Homo sapiens: one gene and its partners. The protein of the gene in region 1 purifies or fractionates together with the protein of each later gene. This does not show direct contact. Each region holds a gene or a part of one and is shown on either strand. Other genes may lie near its edges.

Region 1 (3,523 bases):
GATGGGGTTTCACCATGTTGCTCAGGCTGGTCTTGAACTCCTGAACTCAGATGATCTGCCCACCTTGGCCTCCCAAAGTGCTGGAATCACAGGTGAACACTGCAAGTATATTAAAATGAATAAGTCATAAATTACAATCTTAACTCATTCTTTTTTTTTTTTTTTTTCAAGACAGAGTCTTGCTCTGTCACCCTGGCTGGAGTACAATGGCACAGTCTCGGCTCGGTTTCTGCAACCTCCACTTCCCGGGTTCAAGTGATTCTCCTGCCTCAGCCTCCCGAGTAGCTGGGATTACAGGCATCTGCCACTGCACCCAGCTAATTTTTGTATTTTTAATAGAGATAGGGTTTCATCATCTTGGCCAGGTTGGTCCTGAACTTGTGACCTCGTGATCCACCCACCTCGGCCTCCCAAAGTGCTGCAATTACAGGCGTGAGCCACTGTGCCCGGCCCAACTCATTCTTAATGTATATAGGAATAAACATTAAGGAGAAAGGCAATGAGAAAAGTGGTAAAAACTATTTTTAATGCACAGGCCCATACTTCACAGAATGATGAAGGTCATTTAAGTAATAAGTGGAGGGGAAAAGTTATTAACTTATTCTTGAAGAAGCACTATGTATTTTATGTGTTTAAAATGTTTATTGGCCAAGCACAGTGGCACATGCTTGTAATCTCAGCACATTGGGAGGCTGAAGCGGGAGGATCACTTGAGCTCAGGAGTTGAAGATCAGCCTGGGCAACACGGCGACACCTCATCTCTATTGAAAATCAAAAAATTAGCGGGATGTGGTGGTGCATGCCTGTAGTCTCAGCTAATTGAGAGGCTGAGGGAGGAGGATGGCTTGAGCCCAGGAGATCAAGGCCACAGTAAGATACGATCACACCACTGCCCTCTAGCCTGGGCAACAGAATGAGACCCTGTCTCAAAAAAAAAAAAAAAAAAAGTTTATTATTGGTTGTCTGGTAGAATATAGCATCCATTAATTTTCACTGAATCTGAAATACTAGGAACTTAAAGGCACCAGTGAAAGTACTGGGATATGCCTAAACAATAAGAGATAGTCAAAGTTAAACACACAGAAATATTTTCTGCCATTCACCTATGCTCTCCTACTGTACCCCATCCATTTTTACTTTCCAAAGAATAAAGGCAATAAAATTATCCCTCCAAAATTTGATTGCTAGTATCAATGGGGATGTGTGAGAATGTGTTTTACACAGCTAAAAGCATCTGTAAGTATGTATTTGGAAAGGTATCCTAAAACATTTATTACTCCTTAATATTAAATGCTCAGTTTTTTTGTTTGTTTTGTTTTGTTTTTTGAGATGGAGTCTTGCTCTGTTGCCCAGGCTGGAATGCAATGGCACGAGCTCAGCTCACTGCAACCTCTGCCTCCTGGGTTCAACCGATTCTCCTGCCTCAGCCTCCCGAGTAGCTGGGATTATAGGCGTGCGCCACCATGCCCCACTAATTTTTGTAATTTTAATAGAGAAGGGGTTTTGCCATGTTGGCCAGGCTGGTCTCGAATGCCTGACCTTGAACGCCTGAGGCCCTCCTCGGCCTTCCATGGTGCTGGGATTACAGGTATGAGCCACCTCGCCCAGCTTCAGTTTTTAATAATCTATGTGGGCCGGGTGCGGTGGCCCCAGCACTTTGGGAGGCTGAGACGGGCGGATCACTTGAGGTCAGGAGTTTGAGACCAGCCTGGGCCAACATGGTGAAACCCCATTTCTACTAAAAATACAAAAATCAGCTGGGTGTGGTAGTATGTACCTGTAATCCCAGCTATTGGGGAGGCTGAGGCAGGAGACTCGCTTGAACTTGGGAGGCGGAGGTTGCAGTGAGCTGAGATGGTACCACTGCACTCCAGCCTGGGCAACACAGCAAGATTCTGTCTCAAAAGAAAAATTCTACCTGAAGAGCTCTTATTTCACAAAGCACAGTAAAAAAAAAAGGATAAAATATGAAAGAAGATGCAGGAAAGTTATACATTTTTATAAAGGGATATAGGAATTTGAAAGACATTCCAACATCAGCAAAGGAAGAATGAAGACTGGAAAACAAAATTCAGATACAAATATTAAAGGAGCCATGATTATCTAGAATAAAAGTAATGGTTAAATAAATAATCATCATATCCAAAATGTTGATCAATTTATAGCCAATGAACAAAAAGGAAATGGATCTAAATATTTTATCAAAATCAAGATTTAATGCAAGAAATAATGGTAGAAGGATGGTTAAAATACCTTCCCTTTCCTGAGCAATTCAGTCTTAAAGCCATTAGGCGGTGAACAAGGAAGATGTCAGAGCCAGGAGGCTGCGAAGAGGCAGCTCAGCCCAGGGTGTCAGAACCAAAGTGGTATGTAACAGGCATTCACTTGCGGGCAGCCAAGTGTGGAGTGCTAGGACCTAAATGGGGTGACGAGAGATTCATGCAAGAAAGGATGGCAGCATGGCAGAAATGGGAGATTAAGCACATATAGGGGATTGATCAAAGTAGTAAATATATTAAGGATAACAAATTATGTTTCACAGTGTTGAATATGGGAGGGAAAAATAGGGAAAAGGAGAAAACTAGAATGAATCCTGTGATGTACAATTGCAACTGGAGATGTCAGCAGGAACTCATCGTTTTTTAAAATATAGAGAGAAATGGATGTAAATTTAGATGTGTGTATACATGTGAATGTGTGTGTCTGTGTGTGTGTACATAAACATATATATTTTCTAGCTTTTTCCTCTGAGAGGGCCTGAGAACAGTGGCATCCCACTAGCTATGAGTTCTCCCTGCACCCAGATCTTGGCATTCATTCATGCATTTATATAGAGACAGGATCTTGCTATGTTGCCCAGGCTGGTCTCTCCTGGGCTCAGGCAATTCTCCCACCTGGGCCTCCCAAAGTGCTGGGATTACAGGTGTGCCACCATGCCCAGTTCAGATCTTAGCTTTTAAATAACATTCTCCACTGAAAAACAGCCAAGGATCCTTGTAAAATTGGCTGATTCCAGGGATGGGGCAAGAAAAATACAAGATAAGCCGAGAACAACTTGTTCCTGAAAGCAATAAAGAGGTCATGGGTTATGGGACATGTCAAAAGGCCACAGAAGCCAACCTGAGGGGGATGTCACTGACTAAATAAGGAACAACTGGAGTATCAAAATATATAATGATAGTAATGAATTATAACCCATTGAATAACAAAGAAAATATTGAGTCCATGTTACTACAAATAAATCAATTACATAAAGTTTGATAAGGACTGGGATATTTACAAAGTTTCAAAGAACTTCCCCACAAAGTACTTTTTATTTACAAAGGAGGAAAGAGTTATTTTACAATAGAAATGCCAGATACTCCCTTAATCAAGTGATCAAAGTGATCATCACCATAAAGGGATAAATAGAAATCACGTGTCACCTGACAGGATGCAATGAGAATGCAGCATTGCTTCACGACACTCCTGCATAACCTGAATCTAATCACAAAGAAACATCAAACAAATGTCATTGACATAC
Region 2 (3,371 bases), on another chromosome or scaffold:
AATTATCTTTTTCAAGTACTACCAATCTTTGTAGGTTTATTGTCTCTGGACAGCGCAGTAAGAGGGAACTAGAGAAATCTGCTTTCTGCAGATGGAATTCTGCCTCATATTACCAAGCCCTTAATATCAAGGTCCTCTAGTCCTCCGAAATCTATTTTCTCTCTGTCTTCTGAGGAAAGCCAATTTGAAACCATTTTTCAGGGAAGACAGCAAGGAGACTTATGCTGACGGCGATGGAGAGGCTCAGGCAGTCAGCCATGGAAAGACTCAGGCAGTCAGCCATGGAGAGACTCAGGCAGTCAGCGATGGAGAGACTCAGGCAGTCAGCGATGGAAGAGGCTCAGGCAGTGACTGGGGTGTGGCTGCTAAGGGACGGATCTAACATCACAAGCCACGGTCTAGGAGCTGACACCCACACCGTGTAAATGACAGAAACGACAACGTTTCATTCTTAAATCAAATCAAGCTGTATTGATAATGATGATTTAGCAGGAACCACTCTAAAAATCAGAAACAATTAGAATGCCTTCCCCATCAAATTATTTTATTAGGTTAATTAAACAGCTTAAAGATGATTCCTTTTGTGTGGTACCCTTCTAGAAAATATTTCAAGTTTTTAAGTGAACTTCCAATACATAAAACAAAATTACTTTAGCATACACAAATTTCAGATCAAAATACAACACTCTGTTTCTGTTTTCTTACAGTTATAAAATCCAGTCAATACAAACTACATAAAAAAGATAAAACACTTTCACTGATCCTTGGTACAAGAGAACAGCATGATGGCAAAATGTTCCCCAAGCACAGGTCCTGGGTTCGTGAGAAGGGACCAACCCCACAATATACTGAAGCATGTAAACAAAGTGCGTGCTACTTAATTTAGGTTAACAAATCCTTTTTGCATCAGTATTACTTGTAAACCATAAAGCAACTTTTAAAAAGAAAGGTTATTAATTAAAAATTACTTCTGACTGCTAAATTTCTTATCAGCAAGTGAACAGAAAATTATTCCACAAAACAAACTAGTACCTTTGGACCACAGGATGTGAGACGTGACATTTCAATGAAATCAACTTAGCACGACTTCTCTACTATCCTACTGAACTTGGGGAGTACAATTTTACAAGTTGCAGCCTTCTAGCACTTCCAATATTTTGAACTTTCTAAACCTGCCTATTTAGCTATGATTTTCATTGCAAATCCCTGTTTTTCAGTAGTAGGACTTTATTAAAGATAGGATAATATCACACACAATACAATCTTCACTGAATATGTGTCTAAGCAGACCTACTTGGAATTCTACTAGATAATAAAGTTGCAGGATTTAAAAGAAATACTATTCTGCAGGTCCCATGTCAGAAAACACAGATATGTTCAACAGATTGGTGTGGTATTTATATGGTATTCGTGGCATTTTCCTTATAGTATTCAAAGCATCAAAATGACAAATCAAGACTGTTAAAAACCAGTCTTGGACAAGGGTGACAGTCACATACTCGAGGGTCCAGCACAACACTGGCATGAGCCAACAGGAGCCACGCCGGCCACCTGCTGGGCCAGGGACCACTGCAAAGAGCAGCCCTGAATTTGGGAGGGTCAAATCGAATTTACAAATCTTGTTTTCAGGAATTTCCTTGATAGTTCTCTTTCATGGCAGAAGACCTATACCCGTGATGGAAAACAAAAGAATGTACACATTTCTAGTGTGTCATGAATGGGTCTCACTCACAGATAGGTACAGACATCACTGTCACTGCTAACACACAATGAAGTCTGCCTACGCCTACCTGAGGAGCATCCGCGATACCGTTTCTGATGAGGACAGGACTCTGCGGAGGTGGGCAGAGCAGGGGGTGCTTTTGTCAGCTCTGCTGGTCACTTCCAGGCTGCTGGTACACACCCCAACAGTGGCTGCAAAGATTGTTCAAAACTTCTGCTGAGGCCACAATGATTACGGGATGGTTGTCACAATTCACAAAAGGTATGATACAAAAAACAAAGGGTATCACCATTACGTCGCCGGCGAACTGAAGGGGTACAAGACCGAGGAACCAAACACAAGCTGAATTCAAAACGAAAAGAACCCCAGTGGCAGAAAAAGCCACGAATTATTTAATGAAGCAAGTTGTGCTAATAAACAGCCTGTGCTTTTCTTAACTGAAGGTCACTTGATACATTTCCCAACACACAATTTTTATTCAGATTATCTTTGTTTTCATGGAGAGCCTGAATTTTGAGGTACGATCTAGGAAAAAGATGTTATCACCCACACAAATGGAAGGCTCACTTCTTTACTTCTTAAGCTGATGATACCCTTTTGCCCGCCCCATGTACCAGATCCTACATGATTTTTTAAAATAAAACATAAGTCAATTTCAATGAGCATATGCTAGACTAACAATAAATTTATTTTTTGGAGTTTCTTTTGAAGCACAAATTCCTTTTAAAAAAAATATGAAAAGGTGGTCTCTCCTGGAAACAAGCAGTTCTAGTTTCCGATCCCACAACGATTTGGAACATAGTGTGTTTTTAAGTCAGAGCTGAAGAGGAAAGAAGGAAACAAGGGCTGCGCTCCGCTCTGGCGAATGCGAGCTGCAAAGGGACAGAGGAGGACCCACACGGAGGGTCCCCACCCGGCTCTGCGGACAGACATGGCAGAGGGCCTGTCACACAAGAGGCCACCGGGCCGAGCACGTCCGGGAGCCTGGGGCTGCACTGGGTGCTGAGGTAGTGAGCGGGGCCTGTGCCTGCCTGCCCTCCCGGCTTGGAGGGGGAGCCCTGAGGGCCTCTGGGGCTGGCCTGGAAGGTGTCATTCTAGCCTACAGGTGCCTAAGGCGCTGGGATGTGTCCTTGGCGGTGCCTCAGAAGGCACCTGGGTCCAAGTTCTGACCTGGAGCCTTGGGGACAGATCTGACTCTCACAGCCAGGGCCAGCTGGTTGTGGAAAGTGCTAGTATGCAGGTCTGCTCAGGGATCTGTGAGGCTCATGCTCTGGCCATTATGTGGTCTGAAGAACCAGAAGGGCTATTCTCCTCGCCCCCAACAACCCGCCCCAACTGCACCTTTCTTTTCCTTTTTATTTTGGATACATAATTCAAGCAGTAAAAAAACCAGGCTGGAAGAGGGTTGGGACAGAGGAGCAGAGGGCAGGGTGGGAAAGCTATCCCAAGAAGAGTGAGTAAAAACAACGACTCCGAACATGGCCAAAATACCCTTCCTCCACCTTGACGGCAATCCCTAAGCTGGCAGAGAAAGATGCGCCGACTGCGAAGTGCCTGTTTTCTCAGAGATTCCACCTAGCAGTGTCCATGGGGAGCCACAGTGGAACATGGAGAGAACAATCAAGGCTGGTTCAAACGAAAGGTTATT
Region 3 (3,181 bases), on another chromosome or scaffold:
TGCGACGGCAGGCTCACCCGCTCCTTCAGCTTCCGGATCTCACTGGGGACAAGACAGTCAGCTTTGGCGATGAGAGGCACGATGTTGACCTTCTCATGCAATGCCTTCATGAAACCCACATCCACTGGCCGCAGCCTGCCGAGAGCAGCCAAGGGTGGGCATAGGCACAGCCAGGGGGCCATATTGTAGGGGCTGCACTCCCGAGCCTGGCCCCAGGACAGCCACACACCCATGCCCGAAGGGGGAGATGAAGTATAGGCAGCAGTGCACTCGGTTGTCTTGGATGTTCTTTCGGTTGAGGCCGCTCTCATCACGGAAGTACTGCTCAAACTGCTGGTCCACATAGTCGGTGATGGGCTTCCAGCTGTGGGCAGGAGGGAGGTGAGGCCAGGCCTCGAGTGCTGTGGCCGCCTAGGCAAGGCCTTTCTCAGCAGGCCTCACTCACCACTCGGTGTTGTTGACAGCGTCCCCGAATCCCGGCGTGTCCACGATGGTGAGCTTCAGCTTGACTCCCTTCTCCTCAATGTCCACCGTGTGTTTTAGAATCTCTACCGTCTGGCTGATGCGCTCTACGGGGAAGGGGCCACTGGAAGGGCCTCTCCAACCCTCAGCCCCTCACCCTTGGCAGCCAGGACCCTCGTCCTCATCCATCTTGGTGCCTTGGCCCTACCCCCAGGGGACCCACACCGCGAGAACAGAACAGTGGGAGCTGGACCTGAAAGGGAGTCCTTGGAGAGGTCCCATGGAAGGGGACTGGGGATCAGTGCCAGGGCCTCCTGGGGGCCACTCACCCTCAGCACTGAGCAGCTTCCGGTCCTTGTACAAGTCTGTCAGGAAGAGGCTGTGGACCAGTGTGGACTTCCCCAGGCCTGACTCACCTGCACACAGGTACAGAGAAGGAGCTGCGTTAGGTCTGGGGCTCCAACGACAGAGCTTGGCTGGCCAGTGACCCCAGCCACTCCCCCGAGGAGCCTGGCCCACTCACCAGCCACCATGAGTGTGAAGTCAAAGCCTTTCTTCACCGACTTGCGGTGCACCTGGTTGGGCAGTGTGGCGAAGCCCACGTACTGCTTGTCAATGTCCTGGGGACAGGATGGAACAGGGTAGGGACACAAAGGTTTCTCCAGAAGCCCAATACCCTGTCTCTTACCAAATGCGGTATGAGGAGACAGCAGAGGGTACGGTTCCCAGGGTGGGGCATTTCGTTGGCAAAAATAAGGGGAGGGCCCGTGGGCAAAAGCCTGGAGATAAGAAGGCAGGCGAGGTGGTGGCAGGAGAAGGCACCCCTGGCCCCAATCCCAGGGAGGGCTCTGCAGGGACCGACACTGTATTTATTCCGTGGGGAGATGTCAGGCCGCAGCAGGCACAGGCGATGTCCTCCCTCCTCGGGCAGAGGGCAGCAGGATTGGGACCCCTGGGACACACTCAAGGCCCTCCATAAGCCGGAGAAGCTGGGGGCCTCGACACTCACCCCTCCGGAGAGTGCCAGGGGGCGGGAGGCCCCACCTGGCCCGGATCCAGCCGCGGGGGCGGCGGCAGCGGCGGTGGCGGAGCAGCGCCTATTTATAGACCGCGGCGCCGAGCCTCCCCCGCCCGCGCGCCCAGGCGCCCAGCCCCCGCAGACCCTTGGGGCCCCTGGAGGGGTCCCACGGCCGCATTCTCCGCCGCGTTTTGGAGTCGCGTGAGGTGAGGCCTGGACAGGGCACGTCGCCCCACCGTGGGGCCGCGGACCTGCGAGGCCGCTGCGGAGGGAAGGGCTGAGCCTAGGCGCTGGCGGGCCGTGGCGCGCGGGGACGGGGACCCCATGCCGAGTCCCGGAGCCCGCGGGGTCACAGACCCACGTTCCGCCCTCTCCACACACGCACCTTGAGCCGCCTCTGGGCCTGGGTCCGCGGCGACAGCAGCTGCTCCACCAGGCGGTCCTGGGGCGCTGCCAGCGAGTCCATCGCGGCGACCCCCCCAGGCCCGGGGGCACGCTCGGACCCCAGGCCCGGTCAGGCCGCCAGAGCCCGGCGACAGCGAGGGACCTTGGCGCGGCTCTGCCTTAGGCTGCGTTGTCCACCCCGTTTTGCGGACGCGGGAAGTGAGGCCTGGACAGGGCACGTCGCCTACCCGGGGGATCGTCGACCCCCGAGGCCGACCGAGCCATCCCCCTGACTGGGCGAACTGGCCCCAAGCTGTGGCGGCGTCGCAGTCCGGGCAGGCCCCGCTCCCGCACCCGAGCCAGAGGCGGGGCGTCGCAGGCGCCCGCGGAGCGCGCGGCGGGGGGCGGCAGAGACGGCCCCGCCCGCCGTCGCCGGGAAACGGTCGCCTGGAAATTGGGCCGCGGGCGGAGCCACCCGAAAGCGGCTGCGGAGGGCAGGGCTGAGCCGAGGCGCGGTCGGGCCATGGCTCGCGTGGACCGGGAGCCCTGCCGCGCCCCCGGGGCCTCAGTCCGGGCTCCAGGACAGCAGGAGGGGACGACCGGGTCCTGCACGCGGGCCGGGGCGGGCCGGGAGTCGGTAGCCACCGCGCGTCCCGCCCCCAAGAGGTGCTGCGCGGCTTCCGCCCGCCAGAGGGCGCCGGAGGCCGCTCCCGGGACCCACGCGCAACAGCGCGGGTACCCGCCCAGTTCAGGGCCCGCCGTCTTCTCGCAGACTTGCCCGAAAACCTCCCGGCGGCGTCTCGACGCCCCAAGTGCCCACAGACACGCCGCGCCCTGCACCCCTCCCCAGCCCTGCTTGGGGCTGACCTCCCCCGTGCGTGCGTGCGTGCGTGCGCGCGTTTGTGTGTGCGCGTCCGTGCGGGTGTGTGTGTGTAATGTGTGTGTGTGTAATGCCTGCGTGTGTGCGCGTGTATACATGCGTGTATGCGTGTGTGTGTACGTGTGTGCATGCATTGGGTATGTGCGTGTGCGCGGGTGTGTGCATGTGTGTTTGGTGGACTCTTTCCCAAGACATTCGGGGGACCGGAGGAGGGCAGAGCCCACCTTTTCTGAAGTCCAGCCTGCCTGTCCCCTAGGAGGCTTAGGGTGGACAGAAGGGAAGGGAAGGGAAAGGAAGGGTGCAGGCTGCCGGAGTACTGGAGGTCCCTGCAAAACTTGGAAGCCCCCGCCAGCCTGCTGAATAAACGCCGGCCACCCATGCGCTGCCCTGCAGCCCTCAGGTGGCCCTGCCCTCAGAGACAGGGGTGGGGGTGGGAT
Region 4 (4,238 bases), on another chromosome or scaffold:
CTTAAAAGAGTTCAATTCTAATCTCAAAATCTAGTATATTCCAACCTATAATGCCTTAAATAAGAACACAGGAAATATAGAATCTAGATTTGCACATAATCCCTACTTATCTCTTCAAAGATGGAACACAAATTTTTCAGCTGGCATCCGATTCCCATGCCATTCTCCCATGACACCACTTAAATCAGTCATAGACAAGCTGTAAGGTGGAGAAGCAGACAAGAGGACCATTATCCGATCTGGATGTTGTGTGATGAGTTTAATGTCTCAGACACAAAGTAACCAAGATTTATTTCTCTCTCTCTCTCTGTGTCTGTGTGTGTGTGTGTGTGTGTGTGTGTGTGTGTGTGTGTGTGTGTGTCTTTTTTCAAAGGATCTGGCCAGACTTTAAATTATGGACTTCAGAAGTATTTACCTTACTGTCTTCATAGAGGAAGTTGGCCGCTGGTTGGGTGAGTCTGAAAGAGTTCTTTGCATTACTCTGAAATATAAAGCCTCTGACTCAGACACTCCCTACTTTTTTTTTTATGATGGCCATGATAGTTTTAAATAATGTCATTAAAATAAATATATTCAGATGCTTTATAGAGCAATTTAAAAGAAGTCTGTAGAATATTAGCTATAGCTCTAATTCAAAGTAGTCAAATAGATATTTTTAATGAATCAAATTTTAGCATGAAATGTTATTTCATTTGATATTTAGTATCACATAGTATTTTTATGTAGTAAATTTAGATATCCTTACATTAAGGCACAACTGGCACTTCTTACATGTGGAAATGTAGTTACTGATTTTTGTTATTGTTTATTTGATTCCTCCCTGCTCTGATTTTGGTATTTGATGAATATGACCGAGCCCCACCTGGAATAATTCATATTCTGACATCTATAAATTCAACTGTCATAGAGGAGTAGCACTGCAGTCCCAGAGAGGTGAAGAAAGCAAAGTGCTATAGAATAGAGTGGGCCTTTTCTCATCCATAAAATAAAAATTCACACCAATTACATTTTCATTAGTACACACACACATATATATATGTGTGTGTTGCTATGTATGTGTATAATCACTAACATGGTATTTATGCTGTATTTGGGGAACATTGTATTTAAGGGAGGCAGGTGAGCTGTCCCTCTCAAGAGAAGTAGGGTTGTACCTCACATAGTGTTTCTGACTTTATCTTACACATTATTTCCCACAAGTGTTTGCCCATACTGCCTTTATTTTCGTTGTATGATTAATGCTAAAATTGAGTATGCTGACTGTTTGAAGCTCTCTAAGGTGAATATGCTATCAGAGAGAGAGATGCGTTAGAATATATTGAACACATGGAGAGGGATATCTACCCCCATCAGAAAAGAAATACATTAGTGATAGGAACTTAGAAACCAAATAAATATCCAAAAAATGAGCAAATTTGATAATTATTAACTCCAGAGAAAGCTTACATTGTGAAAAGTATATCATAGTACACTTTATAGATCAACTGTGGATAAAATTATCATAGTCTTAATGATTTAAACCCCCCAGTCCTTGTTAGACGTCCATTGGGACCCACTTCTTCCCTTTGTCTACCAGAGCTTCTCACAGACCTTGGTTTATCTAGTATACCCAAAAACTATGCTTCATACCAGGACATGGTCTTTCAATTCGCACTATCTTAAGGCACACAAGAAGGTTTCTGACCACAAAACTCTACCCTCATCTTCTCAAGACTGTCTGAAATCACCACAGCAGTAGCCATCAGCTCCCACGCCACTGATAGAAGTAAGGTTTAGAAGGCAAATAAATCAGGCACGAAAGAATACACACAGTAAGATGCCCTTCATGAAAAGATCAAACCAGACAAAACTGTTTTTTAATGGATGCTTACATGGGTGGATAGACTAAGCCACGGATATAACTGCTTTAGTTACCCCTAGTGGGTGGGGAGGTTTTGTTGGTGAAAGAATGGGGAGGGAGGTTTTAGAGGTTCTGGTGATGTTCTATTATTAAATTGTATGCATCTATTGAATTCATCTTTATGTAGCTACATTATATTTCATTATTTTAAAACTCAACAGCAACAACAAAAAAAACATGAAGCCAAATGACCTAATGCCTCTGGGATAGGGTCATGGCGCATTGTGTATAACTGATAATTGATCTATTCCTGATAGCAGGTTTTGATGGACAATGGGCTGGGACACCAAGCCAAGGATACACAGGCATCAGTGAGGTAAAGAATAGGATGCAAAATAAGTCCAAGACTGACTGACATGGCCCAAGGAAGAGACCACGGGTCACAGTGTTCTCTCCAGCAGAATCCAAACCCAAGCACATTTGTGTATGGTGATAAAAGCTGCCCCACCAGAAAAGCATCCCTCCAAGGAGGCGACCTGGAGAGATTTCAGGCCTCTGAGCATGATCATTGGCCATTTACATCTTCCTTGAGATTCGTTAGTGAACTTACCTCTTGCCTACAACAGAAGATAAGAGCAATAATGTAAATCAATAATTGGATAAGCAAATCAACAGTGTACTCACGCTAGCATCTGATACCCAGAAGCAGTGATGGGAATCTGGTCTCCTTTCTCTAGGTGATCTGTTCTCACTCACAAAGAAAATGTTTCCACACTTCTCAAGACTGTTGAGCCCTAGGTATTTTCCCCCATGCACTTAGGAAGGTGATGAAGGAGAGCTTCGAAGGGAGCCTGTTTTACCACTACCTAATGAACCAAAGTCAGCATTTCTAGACAAAAATTTGTTCTAAAATTCTGAGAATTCAGTTTTAAAGGCTGTCCAAAGGTGCAGCCTGCACTCTGCACAGGCAGCTGCTTATTGATGAGTAGACCTGGCTTCTGGGATGGCTTCCCTATGACTCAGAGCACAGCACTGTCTCTCAAGAATCTTATAAGCATTTAGGTTTTGAACCAGGTTTCAAAATAGTATCTGACTAAGGTGGTTGTTATGTAGTTCATTCAGTTTGTATGTGAATCAGATTTCAGGAGGCAATATTCCCATCTCTGTTTCTTATAATGACAATGGTTTTAACATAACCATAAAAACAAATTTCAGAATCAACAGTATCTGTCAGCCTGGGTCAAAACATACTCTTCTGTGAGAAACACACAAATAGACTAACTAGACATCAAATCAACTAAGGCAAGATAGCAGTGACAACAGTGACTTGGTGAGTTTAGGGTGCCATTTTATTGCAACTTGCCACTCATCTTATAGCCTAATTTCTTTCAACCCTATCCTGTGTAAATTTCCCTAGCATAATGACCTAAAATAGAATCTCACACAATGTTTTTTATCATTCTCCAATCTCAGATTTTCATCTGGACCTCTAACCTTTTGAGCTGGCTTCTCTTTGTACTGCTTTCCATCCTTCCCTCTTTTTCTCAATTTTCTCTGGCTTGGAATTTTCCAGAGAAACATTTGCCCTGTTAGTTATTGCAACTGGCTTCTCTAAATGCTTACCTGAACTGAGCAGCTTCAGATAGGAGCTGAAACTTGGTGTGTTCATTCATTCTTGTCATCCTGCCAGCCTCTCCTCCACCCTTCTGATCTGGCAATGGAAAGCCACGTCTGCACCACCCAGATCCTTCCTCCTATAATACAGGCTAGAGTTTGTTAAAGTGGGTTTGCACTTTGAAAAGTGACCAGGTGTAGGGAAAGGTAGGTTGGGCCCAGTTGGTTGCCTACACCTTTGCCATCAGAACATGCCACACAGGGGCAAAAACACATTTCAGTTTCTGGCCGTAGCATCATGAGGTTGAGCTGTATGTTGCACCTACCTTCACCTGCTATGCATGGAAATGACTGCAAGCCTGGTCCTTCTGCCTGAGTGTTTTCAAAAGTACAGCCAACATTTATCCAAGTAACTGGGTTCTCTATTGTAAAAAGCTATTGGAATTAGAAGGTACCATCATCTTACAGTTGCTCGCCTCTCAATTTTGTGCAATTTTGCCTCTTTCCCAGGAAGAAGGGGGTCCTGTTAACTTATCCAAAATCGAATAAAGTAGTTATTGCTCACCTCCATGATTGTTTATGAGTAGAATAATCATAGAGAAAAGTAAAGTTGCAGAAAATCCCTGAAATTTAATTTTGATTTAGCAGTTGTGGTGAACTTTCTGAAGGAGAAGGTTGTTGTTAATATAAAAAAAAAATGAGCCTACAAATGGATTCCCTGTTCTCCATATTCTAATTGCAGTGTTCATAGGCTGAATATTTTGAATCCCATATCCTTTCTATT

What was found.
Region 2: the proteins of ZC3HC1 (region 1) and GAN purify together in Homo sapiens (co-immunoprecipitation; 2 studies listed by BioGRID and IntAct, with this or other methods). This does not show direct contact.
Region 3: the proteins of ZC3HC1 (region 1) and SEPTIN5 purify together in Homo sapiens (affinity purification with mass spectrometry; one large-scale study listed by BioGRID and IntAct). This does not show direct contact.
Region 4: the proteins of ZC3HC1 (region 1) and SERPINB7 purify together in Homo sapiens (affinity purification with mass spectrometry; one large-scale study listed by BioGRID and IntAct). This does not show direct contact.

The regions. Positions count from the first base shown.
Region 1 is NC_000007.14:130,041,375-130,044,897, forward strand, and holds part of ZC3HC1 (zinc finger C3HC-type protein 1), read right to left. Parts: exon of another isoform or gene 2,254-3,523; intron 1-2,253. UniProt on the Homo sapiens protein: Required for proper positioning of a substantial amount of TPR at the nuclear basket (NB) through interaction with TPR.
Region 2 is NC_000016.10:81,387,962-81,391,332, reverse strand, and holds the end of GAN (gigaxonin), read right to left. Parts: 3' UTR 524-3,371; downstream 1-523. UniProt on the Homo sapiens protein: Probable cytoskeletal component that directly or indirectly plays an important role in neurofilament architecture.
Region 3 is NC_000022.11:19,717,503-19,720,683, reverse strand, and holds part of SEPTIN5 (septin-5), read right to left. Parts: exon of another isoform or gene 1,947-3,181; coding exon of another isoform or gene 1,866-1,946; intron 1,083-1,865; coding exon 986-1,082; intron 879-985; coding exon 792-878; intron 570-791; coding exon 446-569; intron 365-445; coding exon 230-364; intron 136-229; coding exon 18-135; intron 1-17. UniProt on the Homo sapiens protein: Filament-forming cytoskeletal GTPase. May play a role in cytokinesis. May play a role in platelet secretion.
Region 4 is NC_000018.10:63,774,003-63,778,240, reverse strand, and holds the start of SERPINB7 (serpin B7), read right to left. Parts: upstream 2,824-4,238; 5' UTR 2,525-2,823; intron 461-2,524; exon of another isoform or gene 416-460; intron 1-415. UniProt on the Homo sapiens protein: Might function as an inhibitor of Lys-specific proteases. Might influence the maturation of megakaryocytes via its action as a serpin.